Regions from separate parts of the Homo sapiens genome. Here region 2 is linked to region 1. A link means that fine-mapping ties the variant in region 1 to the expression of a gene that starts in the linked region. Tissue or cell type: whole blood. Region 1 holds a variant in brackets; the other region holds the start of a gene. All regions are shown on one strand. Distances are from middle to middle.

What was found. PIP is the estimated chance that this variant, and not a neighbour inherited with it, causes the effect.
Region 2: QKI starts here. The variant in region 1 is fine-mapped to the expression of QKI in whole blood (INTERVAL, PIP above 0.99).

The regions. Positions count from the first base shown.
Region 1 is chr6:163,351,307-163,354,147 of GRCh38, reverse strand. No RefSeq gene overlaps it. Among named protein-coding and RNA genes, the nearest start is that of DKFZp451B082, 5.7 kb to the right of the region's middle. The variant C/T (reference allele first, on the strand shown) is at 1,367.
Region 2 is chr6:163,413,524-163,416,023 of GRCh38, reverse strand. It overlaps QKI (QKI, KH domain containing RNA binding), which reads right to left and starts at 1,306. Exons shown (of 8, transcript NM_006775.3): 1 at 689-1,306. The coding sequence starts at 830. It overlaps LOC124901234 (basic proline-rich protein-like), which reads right to left. Exons shown (of 4, transcript XM_047419614.1): 2 at 1,939-2,500; 3 at 1,356-1,775; 4 at 848-1,059. The coding sequence ends at 848. CAHM (colon adenocarcinoma hypermethylated) reads left to right here and starts at 2,074. Exons shown (of 1, transcript NR_037593.1): 1 at 2,074-2,500. RefSeq lists silencers at 288-477, 678-727, 978-1,797, 1,888-2,500 and enhancers at 748-1,401, 1,402-2,054.

The DNA of each region.
Region 1 (2,841 bases):
GAGACTCATTGCTGACGATGTTTAGGAAAGGTCAGGAATTCCAGTTTACCAAATTTTTCTTAGTTTTTTTAAACTTGGGTTTTGGCAAAGATTTTTGGCCTGAGAATGTGCCTCACCTTCAAACATTCAGAGGATGGTATAGAAAGTAAAGAGAATGAGGTGACGGCCCGGTGTGGTGGCTCACGCCTGTAATCCAAGCACTTTGAGAGGCCAAGGCGGGCAGATAACCTCAGGTCAGGAGTTCAAGACCAGCCTGGCCAACGTGGCGAAACCCCATCTCTACTAAAAATACAAAAATTAGCTGGGCATGGTGGTGCACGCCTATAATCCCAGCTACTAGGGAGGCTGAGGCAGGAGAATTGCTTGAACCCTGGTGGTGGAGGCTGCAGTGAGATGAGATCGTGCCAGTGCCTAAAAAAAAAAAAAAAAAAGGAAAAGAAAAAAAAGAAAGAAAAGAAAGAGATGAGTTGAAGTGTGTTTTTAAAAATTACACAAAGTTCATTTTCCAAGACTTTGCCACCACAGTGGATTTAATAGTATATCATTAATTCCAACATACTTATGATTTGATTTGCAAAACTTCTTTCAATGTAGGTATTTCTAGGGAAAGTGAAGTGTGAGGTTTCAGCCTGGCCACGGGTTTTTGATTCTGAGGGTCCCCTGGTTCCCCTGTCACAAATGCTGAAGGATACTCTCTATGGATTTTCTTGGGAGGGCTGAGGGGTGGGACTGAAAACGAGCCTGCAGGCACAGTGGCCCCCAGTTTCCTGGAGTCTCTTCCTGGGCTGCAGAACTCAGAGTTTCAGTCTGAATGTTGAGACACAGAGGCAGGAGAAGAGCTGTGGTGTTGGCGAATCTGTTCTAGCACTGAATGATGTCCTTTCTTCCCTGAACATCTTAGCAAGTCTTCTCTTGGTAACTGCAGATGGGACATTGGGATGTGGCCATGGACGCAGCAGTTCCTCCAGGGACTGTCCATGAGAGACAAGGAGGGAGACTGCAGAAGGCCTGTGGCTGACAGGGCCCTTCCTCCGCCACCTGGAAGTAGCTACTGTGATCTCCTTCTGGGCTGGCTGGGGACATGCATGTCTACTCTCGAAGGGCTGTGGTCTCGTAGAACACGGTGAGAGGCCAATGGGATATAAGGAGGGGTAGGGAGGTTGCACGGGTTGAAAGAAAAGACTCCGGGTTTGGACCTCAGGGCTGGTTCTTATTTGTTTTGCTGCCTTGAGGAAGAACATTGTTTAAGCTCTGTGACCCTCTGCTCCTATTTGCAAAATGCAGATGCTAATGTCCATCTTTTAGGGTGTTTGTGAGGCTGTGCCACTGTAAGTGCATATCATAGTGTCTGGCACATGGAGGTGCT[C/T]AACTCGTGGGGATTACTATGAAGATTTGGTGACTGCTGGGAAAGGCCCTACATTAAAATGCTCTTCCCCACTGACCTGTGTCCATGAACAAAACTCCTGCCACCACTGCGTCATTAGATTTTGTCCTTGGAATGCTCCTGTTAAGACACAAACCATCCTCCAGGGTCTGCGGGGAGAGAGTTGGGAAAGAAACGAATTGCCCAGGGGGAAACGCCTTTGGTGGAACAAGTTTATCAAGTCAGCCAGTCAGCCCTGACAACCGGACAGACTGACAGACCAGTTTAGAGGGGTGGTGTGAGAGCAGAAAGGAAGAGGCCTGGCCCCAGAGGAGCTGGGCGGGTGGAAGTGGGCAGGGGGGAGGGGCTTAAAGACTAAATTACAAAATATTTACAGTGCCCAAAGAGCTGAGAGACAGGGGATACATTTATCTTTAAACAATGTTAGTTGTTAGCAAATAATATGCTCATTGTATTCTTTGTTTTTTGGAGTCAGGATCTCGCTCTGTCACCCAGGCTGGAGTGCAGTGGCTGATCTGGGTCAGTGCAACCTCCGCCTCCTGGGTTTGAGCAATCCTCCTGCCTCAGCCTCCCGAGTAGTTGGGATTACAGGCATGCGCCACCACACCCAGCTAATTTTTGTACTTTTTTTAGAGACGGAGTTTTTGCGTAGGCTGAACTCCTGAGCTCAAGCGATCCACCCGCCTCCGAAAGTGCTGGGATTACAGGCGAAAGTCACTGAGCCCAGCCTGTATTTTTATTTAACTTCTGATAACTTTCTAGGTAAGGAGTTTTACATTTGAAACACTGGGTCCAAATGTCAATGTGTAAAAAAATAATAATAATAAACTACAGTAAATATGCTACAGGTGTCAAAGAATTCTGGAAACCCAGAAAAAAAATAGTAAATATATGTGGAGCAGGTGTGCATGGAAGGCACTTACCATATGGTACTGGACCAATATTTGTAGACTGATCGGGAAGAGGGGCCTTCCTAACCATCCAGCACCTGGGGCTCCTGGATAAATGATATGATGCCACAGGGCCTCAGATACAGAGCATTTTGCTATTTTCTTCTCATCTCAACCACCCCTCAATTGTTCACTGAGCACTTACTGTTTGTAAGGCACTGTGCTGGGCACTAGGAAGAATAAAAACTGAGAAATTGTGTCCCTCCTTGAAGAAGACACCTACTGGGCAGCCTTCTCAGCCAGTGACCCCCATTTTTAGCAAACTCCTTCTTCTAGCCTCTCCTTCCACCCCCTAAGCCAGGGACATAGCAGCCACATTTAGCTACATGACCTGCTTCCCCAAGCAAAGTTAATTTACCTGACTCAAGATGGGCCAGTCAAACTCTGTATTCCAGGAATTAGGCATCTGGATTCAGAGATACAAGTCAGCTTCAACTGCAGTTTCAACAGAGGACACATACACTCAGGGGATGCAGGAACATTGCATTTGGCTACGGACTTACCAAG
Region 2 (2,500 bases), 62 kb before region 1:
AGTTCTCGCTTCCCCAAACAAAAGGGAAAAAAGTGCTTTTCGCCGTCACTTAGTCCTCCTTGTCGGCTACGCCAGCATAATTTCGGTCTCCTACGGAATTTCTTTAAACTAACGAGCCCCACACTGACTTCCACTTAGTATTGAACAGCTGCACCAACTCCCCAACCACGAAACCCCGCTTTAGTCCTCACGGGAGGGGAGAGCTCCCGAACGCGGGGCGGTGGGGGTCCGCGCAGAGCAGGCTCGGGAGGCCGAGCGGAGGAGCGGGGCCCGCGCCGGGCACACGCGTCCTCCAGGCCGGCGGCGCGGCGTGGGCCTGCTCTCGGGAGGGCTCGGCGAGGACCACCGAGTCCGCGCAGCCCCCGCCGACCTCTCGGAAATGTGACCGCCGAAGCTAGAGGGGCCGCAGGGCTCACCCCGCAGCCCTCCGCAACGCGCCAACTTGGACGCCAGCGGCGCGGGGTCCCGGCCGGGCAGGGGGCGTCCGGCACCGGCGGGTCCACCCCGGCCCGCCCGCCCGCCGCAAGCCCGGCCCGGCACCTCCTTTGTGCGCCCTCCTGGCCTCCCAGTCCCCCCGGCGCTCGGTCCCGCCCGGCCGTGACCTTCCCGCCCTCCCCACCATCCCAAGCGGGGAAAGGGGCCGCCCCGGCGGGGGTCGGGCCGGGGCCGGGGCCCTGGAGACGCTCACCTTCGTCCAGCAGCCGCTCGAGGTGGTTGAAGATCCCGCAGAAGTTGGGCAGGCTGCTCATGAGCTTCTTGTCGTTCATCAGCTGCATCAGGTAATCTGGGGTGGGCTTCGGCTTCTCCTTCGTTTCCATTTCCCCGACCATATTCCAGGCTCCGCAGCTCACTCCGCCCGCCGCCGCCGCCGCCGCCGCCGGAGAGGAGGGAGGGGCGGGGGCGAGCCCCGGCCGCGGGCCGCTCGGGACCCGGCGTCCCGCTCCGCGCCGGCTCCCGCTCTGGCTCCCGCGCCGAGCCCCGGGGCGGCCGGCACCGCGCGCTCGCCCGCCCCCCGCAGGCACTTTCCGCCCGGGCCCGACGCGCTCCCAGCCGCCGCCGCTCTCGGCCGCCCGGCTCGGCGCGTCCCTCACGAGGCCGGCGGGCGGGCGGGAGGCGGGTCTCGGCTGGCCGAGTGCGGGCGCGGGGCGCGGGCTGCTGGCGCCGGACGAGGAGGAGCCGGGGCCGCCGCTCGCTCGGCTGGTCGAGCCCGCTCAGCGCCGCCGCCGCCTGTGCCGCGGGCTCGGGGGGTCTCTCTGGGCTGGTCCCCGCCGCGGCGCCTCTGCCGCTGCCGCCGCGCTCCGACTGCGCTCCTCCTCTTCCTCCTCCTCCTTCTCCTCCTCCTCCTCCTCACTCACTTGGCGGCGGAGTTCGCCTCAGTTCAGGCGGCGCTGCCAGCGGCGGCGGCAGCAGCGGCGGCGGCGGGGGGAGGGGCAGCGGCGCGGGGAGGGCCGGGGGCGGGCGGCGGGCGGGGCCGCGCAGGGCGGCCGTTAGCGGGTCCCGGCCGGCGCGCTCCCGCTGCCTGCTGCCCGCCGCCCCGCGACCGGGGCAGCCGCCGGCGCCGCGCCCCCTCCTCCCTGCCTCCCCGGCGGGGCGGGCGACGGGGGCAACGGGAGTGTGACGGACTGCGGCGCTCGGCGGGCCTGGGCGCAAGGACTGGGTCGCCGCCGTGCGGGGCGCCCGGGGCGGGTGGGTGTGGGCTGCGGGGCCGACGGCCGCGGGGGGGGCGCGGGGCTTTCCACGGCACGGGGCGGGTGGGGCTGCGGGCGCGGTCGGGGCTGGCGCGGCAGGCGAGAGGAATTCCAGCGGGACGCGCCAGCGCTGCCTCCGCCTCGCCTCCCGTTACTATAGTTTTTTCAGAACCTCTTATCCACCCCGCAGAAGAGAAATTTTTTTTTAACGTCCTGTTGCTTCACGGGGGACTTTCGGGGTGGGCATCACGTGGCCCGACACGTAGCCGTGGGGCTCCAGAGCGCGTGCGCGCGTCGAGCCCGGTCGCCACGCCCCTTCCGAGGGTCGCTCCGCCCCCGTCGGGCCCCGCGAGCGCGCGGTGGGGGAGGGGAGGGCCCCGGAGCGCGCCTGCGTGGGGCGGGGGCGGCAGCCGACTAGGGGCTGGGTCTGGCCGTTTAGGGCCGGGTCTTGGCCCGTCGCCCACGGTGCGGAGGGCTGGTGGGCTTTCCTTGGCCGTCGGGCCCGCCACGGCGCGGGTCTTGGCTGCGGGGCGGAGGTGGGGCGGGAGAGCCGAGGATAAGAGTTTGAGGCTTTTCGAGGCGCGTGCCGCGGCGTCCGCCTCTGCGGGACTCTGCGCCGGGCGCCCTCGGCCGGCGCGCCCGGCTCCCGCTTTGTCGCCGAGGGAAGCACGCGCGACGCCCCTCCCGTCGCCGCCGTGGCTTCTTTCGGTGTTCGTGATTTGCTGAGAGGCTGGAAAGCAGCACGGCGGAGAGGAGCCTTGCACTCGCCAGGCGGGAAGCCTGCGCGGACACGCGTGCGCACCCACGGGGCG